Linked DNA regions of Homo sapiens. The protein of the gene in region 1 interacts with the protein of each later gene in a pairwise test. Each region holds a gene or a part of one and is shown in the gene's direction. Other genes may lie near its edges.

Region 1 (7,069 bases):
ATTCATTGTTTTCTTATCCACCTAAATGCACCCAGCTGCCCTTGATTTTCTCTGGGCTACTGGCCTTCACAACCCTCTCCCATGTACCCTCTCTGACTTTGGGGTAACCCTCCCCTAACTTAAAGCTAGAGAATTCTGAAACTGAGGAGGGGATCCTCTGTTAATCAGTGAGCACTTTTTGATGAGCTGATAGATGATATATGAGAGACTATGCGTGGCACAATACTTTGTTACACTCTTCACTGATACAAGTGTTCTAGAGTGTACACACAACCCAAAGATAGAAATAAAAAGAGGAGCAGTGTCGGGGAGCTTGGGGCCTGGTGTTCCATGGAGAGGGAGAAAGGAACAAGCTTGACCAATTCATTCAACTCCTTATAAAAATGATGAGGAGGCTGAAAACCAAGAATTTTGATTGGGAACAGAATACAAGCAGCTGAATCAGATGAATTACTAAGCAACAAAGATCCTGTTTTTATACAAATATCCTTAGTACAAAAACAAAAGAAGGAAAACTGTAGGGGGGAGTAATGTGCTAAGTAAGCAGAATTGCCTCAAAAAGAAGTTGTTCTAGTTACTCTTTCAGAGTGGGAATCTTAGATTCTGGTATTGTGGATATGGTTCACATATAATGGGATTGTGTGTTTTATTTTGGAGGGATTAAAGGTCATAGTTTGGTCCTCAGTATAAAATCAACTGGTAATTTATTCATTTCATTTGGTAAAAATGTATTGACTGCCTGCTATGTTCTAGGCACCATGCTATGTATTTGGAATACAGCTATACAAAGCATTGTCACATAATTGAAATGAAAATTTTATATTATTTAAGTCACAAGAACAAGCTATTTAATTATATTACTTTTAGTTTCTCTTTTAATAAAGAATAGATAATGCTATCATTCTAGATACTAAATAAGTATTTTCTTAACATAATATTACTATCCACTTTATCTTGTAGAAGAAATAACTAAAATACATCTGTCTTCACTCCTGTATTTGTTTGCATTTTAAGGATTAAAGACAGAAATAGAAATGTAAACAACTTTATTTTGAAAATATTTCAACACTGCAAATATCTCTGGGTCTGATATTCTAGTAATCTAATTGGCTAGTAATTGATGTTAGTGTGATTTATTGTTGAAGGCTAAATGTGTTTTTCAGTTTCAAGAAAATTGCTTTTAATAATTGCCTAGAACAAGAGGTTGATTTGGCAGCAAGATGTTGACGGGAAGTTAGAGAAGTCAATAAAGGAAGTTTTTAGCTGAGAGAGAGTGATTATTCACTCCCATAGCCTCTGCATTGTTATCCATTAGCCACGATAAGAACCTTAGGGAATTCTGAGAGTGTGTCCAGGAAAGGATCTGTCAAACTAGAATAGTATCTCCTCCTTGAGAAAGGAAATAACCAAGGATTCCGCAGCTGAGAGGCTGCCAGGGCTAGTGAAATAGAGTAAGGAAATCTTGGCTGTCTCTTATTCTCTGGTTGTAGTTTAACGCAAGACACTTATTTACTCACTGATGGTGTGTGTGTGTGTGGGAGGGGAGATTAGCATGAGGGGTGGGAATGGGGAGATTCGATGAAGAGAAAACTAACATTTTTTTGGTGACTCAGGAACTGTGCCAGGTACTTCCATGCTTATTAGCTCAATTACACAAAAATCTTGGGACCAGGTATTATTTTTCAAGTCTTCCCACATGAAGTAACTGAAGTTTGGAGATGTTAAGTGATTCACCCAAAGTTGTACAGCTAATATGTGGTTAGGCTGGGTCCTGAAACCGAGGCAGTTTATTTTCAAAGCCTTTGCTTTGTGCATCTTACTGCGCCACATTGCACTGCACATCTGCTTCCTGAAAGCACTTTGTAGGTGTGTAAAACTTTTCGTTAAATGCTTTAAGCTGTTTGGGTTAAAAATATATGTTCATGTTATAAGAAAACCAAGACACTCCTAATTATAATCAAATAGTACTTGTTACATATCAATATGTGTGTGTGTGTGTGTGTGTGTGTGTGTGTGTGTGTGTGTGTGTGTGTGTGTATGGCGTTGTGCAGATGTTTAAAAGTAGTTACATAGACTAGTTCTTGCTTTTCAGGGTCCCATAATCTAAACCAGATGACTTCAGCTTTGGATAAATATATAGAAGGAAATTTAAAGAGAATTCAAAACAATAGATGATGCAGTGACACTGTGAATAAATGTTATTTATACAGTTTGTAAGATTTCATGCTCATTGTTCATATGTCCCAGGTGGAGTTCAGAAAATATTCTCTTCATTTCCACAAAGGGGAATAGTGCCTGGAGATGGTTTTCTTTTAAAAAGTCCTTTTCATAATGCAGTGCCCTTCCTTCCATTGCCCTTCATTCCATTGCTTCCCATGCTTGTCAAGAGACTAAAATGTTACTTATAGTAATAGTCACTATCTCAATGTAAATAGCACCCTTATTTGATGAGAATTATTATTTCAGTTCTAAAAATGGGGAAACAAAGTCAGCAGGAGGCAAAGTAGCTTGTTAAAGTATTCTGCAACTTTCAAATGGTTGCTTCCACTGCATTTCACGTCTTGGCACTTCTAATTGAGGGTTACTCTAACCACCCTATTTAAAATTGTAACTGTCCCCCACCCCCTTAATTACTAACCCTGGTCTACTTTTTGTTTTCTTTTTCTGTAACTCTTATCTTCTTACTATATAATTTATACTATATAATTTACTTCATTATGTCTATTGTTCATTGTCTGTCTTTTCCAAATTCTACTGCCTCTTACCCTCTCCAGAATGAAAACTAGTATCTTTGTTTTTGTTTACTGATGTAACCCAAACACCTACAAACAGTGCCCAGTATATACTAGGCCCACAAATATATATTGGCTGACTGACTGTATGGTTTAGTATCATGTCATAGTATTGAGACTGTAACTTTGGTCTTCTCATTTTCTTCTTTGTATTGTGCGTCCTAGACTTAGTTTGGCCTCTCCTTTTGTCCTTGTATACTCTAATACTGGATAAGAATTTTGGAGTCTTTTTCAACTCTGAGTCAGTGAATGCCACATAACTTAGTGACTATATTTAAATGGTTAATTTACAATTTTTTCCCTGCAAAGGATACTGTAGTCACTGTGAGTATTTTAGTATTATTGTAGGACTCAAGAGGGAATTAAAACTACAAAAATGACTCCTCTTGTATGACACAGAAAGAAATGTTTCTTCACAGAGGGAGGAGAAAAATATCTTCAAGAGAGAACTAATAGAATCAAATCAATGAACCATGTCTCATCTTTTTGGATAAGTAACTGTTAGTAATCCAGACACTTCATGAGCTTTCATTATGTAAAGTCTTTAGCAGAAGCTAAAGGAGGGGCACCAACCACAGTAATTTTAACTTAAGAACAAAATGGAGCATGAAAATAAATTATTAAATCATTTACTCCCACTATTTTTGGGTTAGGGCCAATAATGGGGAGAGAAAGAGGTAGACTAGTTTTGTGTTTGTGGCTATTTTAATAGAGTAGCACAAGTAATCAAAAAACAGTAGGCTGTTTTGAATTTACTGGCTGTCCCTTATGAGTTCACAGTTAGATTGGACTGTCCTCAATGTACTTTCTTTTTTTTCTTTCTTTCCCACATCTCTTTATTTCTCTGATTTTGTTTAAACTTCATAAAGAGCTCTCTGATCTTTCCTTTCCAAACAATGAAGGTTTATCCTTTGTAAACTACCTCTGTACTCCACAGGCTGATGATATGTGATATCCCTATATCATTAAAGTAAAGCCTAAGCACATTCTATGGCTTTTGTGTCTACTCTGTTGTTGCTGAGCTTATGAACTATTAGAAATAACTCCCTCTTGCATTTTCACACATGGGGAATGTGATGTTCTCTTGGGTATTATGCTAATCATATTTTGGCAGGTTTCTCTGGAGCAGATGCAGAAATGATCATACCACTTTCCAGGGTGTATTATTTTAGCTCCTTTGACTTGGGCCCTAAGTCTGTTTTACCTGATGTTCCTGAAAGATGTTCCTGATGTCCTTCACTGTTCTTTCATGCTGGATGTTCTTGCCTATGCTGCCTCCTCAGCTATCACCCTCTCTTCCCCTTTTTAATGTAGAACTCATTCTTAATGATTTGTCAAAGGCACCCTATTTCACTGAAATGCCTTCTATATTCCCTACCCTCCAAGTGGATTGTAGACCTTCTAAGGTCTTTTGACATCTGCATATCTCTAGCACAGCACTTATCACGGTGATTATTTATCTGTTCATCTTTCCAAGTAGACACTCTCATTTTAACTCCCTACCCTAGTCGCCAGCATCCCCAGCATAGTGCCTGTCATAAAATGGTGCCACAATGAAAATTTGAAAAATGAATGAACGTGATAAACATAGATGAGAATCCTATATTCTACAATTTTTTAAATGTACTGAAATTATTCTTTTTGAATCCTCCTATTTATTTCTGTGACTTCTTTGATGACAAAGTTAGAAAAAAGTGGAGGTCAGTAGGGAGATATGAAGGGACGCAGGTGGAAGCAGTGAGCCTGGGCGGGTGATGGAGTGGGAGATACGTGGCACAGGGGTCAGTGAGTTAATCTGGGCTCATTCAGAGAATGGAAGGTGTGTGCCAAGAAAACTGGTTGGATAGGGATAGGTCAGGGATTCCCTCTTGCATTCTCACACTTGGGGGCATGTGTCATTTTCTTTTCTTTTCTTTTTTTTTTTTTTTTTTTTTGAGACGGAGCATCGCTCTTTCTCCCAGGCTGGAGTGCAATGGTGCTATCTCGGCTCACTGCAACCTCCACCTCCCGGGTTCAAGCTATTCTCATGTCTCAGCCTTCCAAGTAGCTGGGACTACAGGTGCCTGCCACCATGCTCAGCTAATTTTTGTATTTTTAGTAGAGATGGGGTTTCACCATGTTGGTCAGGTTGGCCTCGAACTCCTGATCTCAGGTGATCCACCTGCCTCGGCTTCTCAAAGTGCTGGGATTCCAGGCATGAGCCACCATGCCTGGCCGCATGTGTCATTTTCTTGGGTGTTATACTGATCGTATATTTGCAGGTTTGCTTTTGTGACAGACTTCTTCTGGGGGAAAAAAAGTATCCTTCTATCTTTTTACTTTTGTCCAGTTCCAGGTATCCCTGTTTTTTTCTTCACTCTTCCTTCCTTGTTCATGGGAGTTTTTCTTGAGGACTTCAAGCCCAGCTTCGGAGAATCCTGGTTGTGTCATCTCATCTCCTTTCTGCTCTCTTCTCTACCTAGCCTTTCCACCCTCACACCTCCCGGGGTCTGAAAATGGAAAGATAAGGGTGTTTCCCTGAAAGTTGCTCTTCTGTGTGGGGATGACAGGTTCTAAAGACTCTTTTCTGGTCCCTGCCCTCATTGCCATGATTAATCAGTTAAGTGGCCCGAGGTTTTATAACAGCACAGTCTTAAAATGCTTCTCCCAAGTTTAATTTCTCTCCATTTGACCTTTTAAGGATGTGAATTGGCTTTAAGCAGTAGACTCCCTTTAGTACGGTGCTGTGAGCCTCTCAGTGAATCTGCTACATCCATTCCACCCACGGGTCTGGAAACTTGTCTGTTTACCTTTCCCTAAAAACCTAAGATATATTTTTAAGAAGTGCCTTGTAACTTTTCATATAGCCTTTCCCCTACTTTGGGTAGACTGTTTCTTACAGGAATTTGGTAGATCTTTCCAAAGAGAATTCTGTATCTGTATTTTTAAAGCATAAATCCTGTCAACTTTGGAGGAGAACTGATTTGGCTTGAGTTTTCTCAGACATGGGAACTTTTGACCTAAGTTTGTATTTTACATTGTTGAAAGGGAACTCCGGGATCCCAGAAAACATATGGACTGCAATTGGGTAAAGTTTCTGTTCCAGAAATGCCTCTTCTGGACATTTCATACAAATGGAAACATGCAGCATGTAGTAATTTATGACAGCTTCTTTCACTTAGCATGAGGTTTTCAAAGTTCATTGATGTGGTAGCATTTGTCAGTACTCTGTGCCTTTTTATGGCTGAATAATATTTTATCATATGGATTTACCACATTTTATCATTTTATTTATCCATCATCAGTTGATTGACATTTGAGTTGCTTCTACTTTTTGAGTATTATCAATAATTCTGTTATGAACATTCTTGTATAATTTTTTGGTAGACATTTATCTTCATATTTCTTGGATATATACCTAGGAGCAGAATTGCTGCGTCAGATGGTAATGCTGTTTAACCTTTTCAGGAACTGTCAGACTGTTCTGAAGTGGGTACATTATTTTACATTCCAACCAGCAGTGTATGAGAATTCCAGTTTCTCCACATCCTCATCAACAGTTGTTATTGTCTGTCTTTTTTATTATATTCATCTGTAATGTGAAGTGTTTATCTCATTGTGGTTTTGATTTACATTTCCCTGATGGTTGATGATTTTCAACATCTTTTCATATACTTATTAGTCATTATGTATCTTCTTTGGAGAATGTCTGTTCAGATCCTTTACCTACTTTATAATTGGTTTATCTTTTTAATATTGAACTGTAATAGTTTTTAAAAAATATATCCTAAATACAAGTCTCTTATCAGATAATATGATTTGCAGATATTTTCTGTCATTCTATGTACTGTCTTTTCACATTCTTGATGATATACTTTTCAGCCCAAATGTTTTTAACTTGATGGAATACAATTTATTTTTTCTTTTGTTGCTTGTGCTTTCAGTCATATTTGTGAAAACTTTGCTTATCCCACATTACAAAGATTTACTATTTCTAAGTGATTTATAATTTTACCACCTACCTTTAGGTCTCTGATCCATTTTGAGTTAATTTTTATGTGCGAGGAGGGAGTCTAACTTGATTCTTTTACATGTGGATATTTAGTTGTCCCAGGACCATTTGTTGAATTAAGTGCCCAGAACAAGTACATCTATATATAGAGAAAGTAGATTAGTGGTTGTCAGAGACTGTAAGAAGTGGGGAATTGGAGAGTGACTGCCCATAGGTACAGGCATGCTTTTTGGCATTATGAAAATATTCTGGAATTAGGTAGTGGTGATGGTTGCAGAACTTTTGG
Region 2 (6,953 bases), on another chromosome or scaffold:
TACTGCATAGATGTAATTCCAGCAAAAAGCAAAGAAACAAGACATCTTACATAGCTTGTGTGGTCTTACCAAGGGAAAATTCATGGTTTGTGTTCATCTTTTGAAATAGTAAAAATAACTCGTGAGTTTCATTTCTACTTTCTTGGAGCCCCAGTCATTGCAGAATCTACCACAGCCACAGATCCCATTTCATTCTCTCCTGCCCCCTGAGGCTTTTATCCTTATCCTCATTTTCAAGGTGAAGAGACTGACGGCAGGTGTAGTTCCCAGCCTTTTCATAATTTTTCATTCACCTCTTTAAATGGCAATTGGGACCTGGGGCAGTGGCTCACGCCTGTAATCCTAGCACTTTGGGAGGCTGAGGTGGGAGGATCACTTGAGTCCGGGAGTTTGAAACCAGCCTGGGCAACACAGTGAGACCCCATCTCCACAAAAAATTTTAAAAAGTGGGTGAATGTGGTGGTGTGTGCCTACAGTCCTAGCTGCTTGGGAGGCTGAGGCAGGAGGATCGCTTGAGTCCAGGAGTTCGAGGATGCAGTGAGCTATGATCATGTCACTGTACTCCAGCCTGGGTGACAGAGCGAGATCCTGTTTCTTAAAAATAAATAAATAACGCAATTGGGTTTTAGCTGGAAAAAAGCAGTGAAGGAGGAGGGAACCTATGACTCTCAGGCTCCAAGATGACGTGCCTGGTAGCTGCCAGATGTTCACATGCCTGAGGGTTTGTTTTATTTGCAGAATGTTTTAGCTGGTGCCTTGTTTGGGCCATGGCTGGGGCTTCTGCTGTGCTGTGTGTTGACCTCGGTGGGTGCCACATGCTGCTACCTGCTCTCCAGTATTTTTGGCAAACAGTTGGTGGTGTCCTACTTTCCTGATAAAGTGGCCCTGCTGCAGAGAAAGGTAAGGGGAGGGGTCACATCTGAGAGCTGGGACCCCAGACAGTCGCTACGTGCATGGCCTTGAGAGAAGCGAGTGGCAGGGATTTCCCACAGTACTCTTCCACGCTGTTTCAGGAGGTCCTAGGGGTTCTTTTGATGTCTTCAGGAGACATAGACCTGGGATCAAATCCCAGCTCCATCATTACCAGCTCTGTGACTTTGGGCAAGTTCTTGACTTCTCTGATCCTCAGCATGTCTATTTTAAAATGAGGAAAACAGTCTTTCCCTGGAGGGTTGTTGGAAGAATTGGGAACAGATTATGTAAAGTGTCTAGAACAGTGCCTGGCACCAGCAGGTTTTCAACACCTGGAGACCCTTTCTGCTTCTTAACAGCTTTCTTCTCTTTGGCTACAGGTGGAGGAGAACAGAAACAGCTTGTTTTTTTTCTTATTGTTTTTGAGACTTTTCCCCATGACACCAAACTGGTTCTTGAACCTCTCGGCCCCAATTCTGAACATTCCCATCGTGCAGTTCTTCTTCTCAGTTCTTATCGGTAAGATGCTAGTGGGGTAGGTTTGAGTCTTCAGAGCTGTCACGCTGGGGGTCTGCCCTGGGTTATTGGCCACGTGAGCATGTGCCTGCTTCTGAGAACACAGGCTCACAAAGTGTGACTTCAAGCCTTATGATCTAAAGAAATGATTCCTGATTTCAGATCTGCTCAGGCTTCAACATGAAAACCCATAAAAATACTTTTGGACTAAATAAAGATTGTCCATTGCATGGCTGTATGCACTAGGCACTGGGATTAGAAGAGATGGTCTGTGTAAAGTATACAAATTGGCCCATAGTAAGTACTCAGTAAATGCTAGCAGGAAGAGCAGGGTTGGAATGAGGGTGTGTGTCCATGAGTTTTGAGTGGGGACAGAAGAAAGGAGCAGAGCAAGGGACTTCCTGTCTGGTTTTTGGCCCCTGTTTTGATTAAGTTCTGCCTTAGGAATTGCTGGCATCAGTGTGGTTCCTTCCTGCCTTTTGACAATTGCACAACCTGCAGCAAGCTACTTACCCTCAATGGACCACCTGGCTAGGAATAGAGCAGTGTTTCTCAAAGTGTGGGCTTTGGGCCACCTTCATCAGATTGTTAGGGTCAGGGGGCTTGTTGAGAATCTAGATTTGGGGCCTACTCCAGACCTACTGAATCAGAATCTTGGGAGTGGAATCTGGGAATATGCATTTTAATCCAGTTCCTAGTCAGTCATTTTCAAACTGCAAACCCAGTCATTCTCAAACTGCAAACCTATTAAGAATCGCCTGCAAACCTATTAAAAATCACTTGGAGGCCGGGCTGAGTGGCTCACACCTGTAATCCCAGCACTTTGGGAGGTTGAGGCGGGTGGATCACTTGAGGTTGGGAGTTCAAGACCAGCCTGGCCAACATGGTGAAACCCCATCTCTACTAAAAATACAAAAATTAGCCTGACATGGTGGTGTGCGTCTGTAATTCAACTACTTGGGAGGCTGAGGCAGGAGAATGGCTTGAACCTGGGAGGCGGAGGTTGCAGTAAGCTGAGAGGATGACACTTCACTCCAGCCTGGGTGACAGAGTGAGGCTCCATCTCAAGAAAAAAAGCAAAAAAACAAAAACAAACAAAACAACAAAACATCACCTGTGGAGATTTTAATCCCTAAGCTAAGGCTACACCACACATCAACTAAATCATCTCTGGGGTAGGACTCAGGGATCAGGATCTTTTAACATTTTCCAGGTGATGCAAGTAGTTAGTCCCTAAAAGGGATTCCGCTGGATCCTGAGTTTTGCAGTCTACTGAATTAGACGATATCTAAAGTTTCTCCTTGCCTTTGACAATTATATGACCTGCAGCGAGCTACTTAGTCTGAACGGGCTACTCGTCCAGATAAGGGGCTGGGACTAGAGCAGTGTTTCTTGAAGTATGGGCCTTGGACCACCTTTATCAGAGTGGTAAAGTGCTAACATCCTATAAAATCAGTGTTTGCTACTTTCTCCATACTGGAAGAAAACCACCCTCCTTAAGCCTAAGGCAAGGATCTCTTCTCTTAAACCTCCCTTAGATCCTAGAGGGAAAGACGATTCAGGGCTTCTAGGTCAAACAGAGCAAATCTGTGGTTGAGCAGCTGCTATTCATAGGAGATACCTGAGAGAAATGGAGATCTTAAATAGAAGCAAGATCTACCACGGCCAATTTTGGTCATATTGGCTTTCAGACAAAGTGCCTCAGGCCCTCAGCTAGTGGGGGTTTGCTGCTTCTAATTACCTAGGTGGCATGAGGCTTGGCAAGATTCTGGAGACCAGGCTTCCTGTCCTCTGTCTCACAAGCTGTGTGACCCTGAGGGGTCTGGGATCTTCATCTCCTGTATACTTCCTCTCCTATAGAAGAGAAATGGACTATCAGAGTGTTCCAAACCAATCGGAATCTCAGGGTGGGAGTGGAGAAGGGGCTTTTAAAATACAGGTTCCTGGGCACTACCCCAGAACCAAGTACCCAGAATTTCTGGGGTGGAGCCCAAGGATGTGGTTTTTTAACAATGTCACCAGCTGATTGTTCTGCAGCCAGCCTGTTCAGCCAGCCAGACTTTTGGAATCCAGTGGATTTGATGACATCTTTGAGACAGTACAGAATGTGAATAGTACTTCTTTTAAAAAACTGTTTGTCAACAATGGCACTTCTCTCTTTACTTTGGCTGTTGGGTACTCAGAACCAAATTTGGGGCCCACTTTTGGCAAACAGGTGAACCTTATGCATTTTTTTACTAACTGTACTCCCTGATGTCTTGTATTCTTCTGCACGCATTTTGCTTTTCCTATTTAAAATTTTATTTATTTATTTATTTATTTTTGAGACAGAGTCTAGCTCTATCGCCTGGGCTGAAGTGCAGTGGTAAGATCTTGGCTCACTGCCACCTCTGCCTCCCAGGTTCCAGTGATTCTCCTGCCTCAGCCTCCTGAGTAGCTAGGATTACAGGCACATGCCACCACACCCGGCTAATTTTTGTGTTTTTAGTAGAGACGGGGTTTCACCATGTTGGCCAGGCTGATCTCGAACTCCTGACCTCAGGTGATCCACCTCGGCCTCCCAAAGTGCTGGGATTACAAGCATAAGCCACCATTCCTGGCCCTATTTTAAAATTGTCTTATAGTAGCATGTATTATTTGTGTAAATATCTCAAGTTCTTTTGTTGAACAAGACAGGCATATATGGGAAGTGAGGAAAGGAGGGAAAATAATAGAAAAGAAGGAAAGAAGGGAAAGAGTTAATATGTATAAGGGTCAAGAGTCAAGCAAAAAAAAACCGTAGTCACTGTTCCTGGTGACATTCTGAATTATTATTTTCTTAATTTTGCTGCTGCTTGTAACAGGTGCTTTGTCCTTTTCTTCTTCCAGGTTTGATCCCATATAATTTCATCTGTGTGCAGACAGGGTCCATCCTGTCAACCCTAACCTCTCTGGATGCTCTTTTCTCCTGGGACACTGTCTTTAAGCTGTTGGCCATTGCCATGGTGGCATTAATTCCTGGAACCCTCATTAAAAAATTTAGTCAGAAACATCTGCAATTGAATGAAACAAGTACTGCTAATCATATACACAGTAGAAAAGACACATGATCTGGATTTTCTGTTTGCCACATCCCTGGACTCAGTTGCTTATTTGTGTAATGGATGTGGTCCTCTAAAGCCCCTCATTGTTTTTGATTGCCTTCTATAGGTGATGTGGACACTGTGCATCAATGTGCAGTGTCTTTTCAGAAAGGACACTCTGCTCTTGAAGGTGTATTACATCAGGTTTTCAAACCAGCCCTGGTGTAGCAGACACTGCAACAGATGCCTCCTAGAAAATGCTGTTTGTGGCCGGGCGCGGTGGCTCACGCCTGTAATCCCAGCACTTTGGGAGGCCGAGGCCGGTGATTCACAAGGTCAGGAGTTCAAGACCAGCCTGGCCAAGATGGTGAAATCCTGTCTCTAATAAAAATACAAAAATTAGCCAGGCGTGGTGGCAGGCACCTGTAATCCCAGCTACTCGGGAGGCTGAGGCAGGAGAATTGCTTGAACCAAGGTGGCAGAGGTTGCAGTAAGCCAAGATCACACCACTGCACTCCAGCCTGGGTGATAGAGTGAGACACTGTCTTGACAAAAAAAAAAAAAAAAAGAGAAAAAAAGAAAATGCTGTTTGTATTTTGTGGTCTAATAAGGAGTTCGGGATAGCCTGTTGTATTTGCCTCATGCCAGCCCCTGAGCTGCCTTGGGAGAAGATGCTGATTGTCCTTGTCCAGAGTACTGCTTTTGCAGAGTGACAGGCTGCTGGGACAGATGTCCTCCTGTTGCATCTTTGTGGATGTTTAGTACCAATGATGACACGGGAACTCACATCACTGACACCGCTCTTCATCTTCTGTTAGTCTCTTGAAGAGCATTTTTTTGTACTTCTTTGCTGATGACCTACCTCTTCATAAGCCAAGTGAAACAAGTTGACGAACTGCCTAGGACTTCCACGTGTTGCTCACATACATGATGATTTCTGTCACGCTCTTGTGTTCAGACACACTGACATTACCATGTATGTCAGACCTCCTTATGATCGCATGTCCTGACAGTTAAGCTGATTGCAAACAGACTATTAAATATGAATGGAGCAAACGCTGTATGTCATGGATATGTTCTGGAGAAATTCTTACCCATCTGGATGGGGCAGGGCCCTTGACTCACCTGAATCATGACCAGGCAAACATTTTATCTGTCCTTTCTGCAGGAATCCGTTCTGTGTCATGCTAGGAGAATGGGTTCAGTATATGGGGCCATCAGGCAGTATACCCTCTGAATGTTTTTCATTGTTGTATTTGCTTAGAGTAACTAAACAATTGTATCTTTTAATTTATCTTTTAATTCAAAGAGGAAACCTTGGCTTCTGATAACTTTGTTGTGTTGTATCTTAATGGCCTATAGCTGTCATTACTTCCTGTAGCTGCAGTACAGAATTGTTACAGACCTGGATTAATGCTTCCAAAGACAGAAGGACCTTGGCACCTAAACTGACCAGCCCTGTGATCCTGCACCCCACAGGAGTAACTCATCAGGACTTACCAGACTGCTGCTTTTGGGCATCATCTGCTGGGTTGATGATTTGGTTTGGCCAAGAGTCTTGCCAAGACTTTAATCTATGCCTCTTGTTCTACATGAATTCTTGGGAATTACTCACGTTCCATAGGAAGAGTGCATCCCCAGGTGATGGTTTTTGGTTATGGTATGATCCTTTCACACCGAGGATTTCATTGTTTAAAACGTGTTTCTTTAAAAGAAGCCTTGATAACGAGAGTGGGGGAAGGAGGCAGCAGACTTTGAAGACTGTGGCCTTTGGTGTTCTGGAGTAGGGGGAGGGAAGGAGAAACATGTTTTCCACATCATCGCAAGTGTGTGCCCTTTGCCCCTTTTCAGGATCCTTAGAGTTGCCTCCCTCCCTCCACCCCGACAGTTTTGCAATAATGTGCCTTATCAGTTGTGAGTTTACAGGTGAAGCAATTTCCCAAATAAATGGATGTAAGTGTTCTGTGTGGTGCTTGTTTGAACATGTTGCTAACTTTCAACTACCTTTGCCAGTGGGAATTAGGATTGGCTGAAAATTGGACAGTCCAAAATGGTGTTTTAAGCTTTCCACTCTCAATGCTTCTTACCAAAATAATTTCTCAGAAGCCAGATTTTCATCTTCATTTTCTCTCTCTGCTCCCTGTATAGTGGGGTCAGTAGTAACAGGAGTAGCTACCGGATGGGCAGCAGGAAAGCATAGGGAAGAAGCAGAGTGCCAGTCTAGCTTTTACAGAATACTCAAGAAGAGGCTGTCACCAAATAAAATGATGATTGCCCCTTCCTTTCGTGGCTGTGTCAAATACAAGAATCGCAGAAACTAGCTTTCTCCATTACCTGCTTTTTGTGGCTGCAGGAAACCCAGTCATGGAAAGTCTTCCTTTCCCTCAAGTTCTGACAAATGCTGAGATTATTAAGGCAGCTCTCAGGGCACAAACAGTACATTTAGAAAAAGACAGGACTAGA

What was found. Proteins that work in one complex are often made in the same cells at the same time.
Region 2: the proteins of NOTCH2NLA (region 1) and TMEM41A interact in binary tests that used the Homo sapiens proteins (3 or more experiments, as listed by UniProt).

Annotation. Positions count from the first base shown.
Region 1 is NC_000001.11:146,148,975-146,156,043, reverse strand, and holds part of NOTCH2NLA (notch homolog 2 N-terminal-like protein A), read left to right. Parts: 3' UTR 1-7,069.
Region 2 is NC_000003.12:185,489,101-185,496,053, reverse strand, and holds the end of TMEM41A (transmembrane protein 41A precursor), read left to right. Parts: intron 1-738; coding exon 739-900; intron 901-1,292; coding exon 1,293-1,431; intron 1,432-4,296; coding exon 4,297-4,517; 3' UTR 4,518-6,453; downstream 6,454-6,953.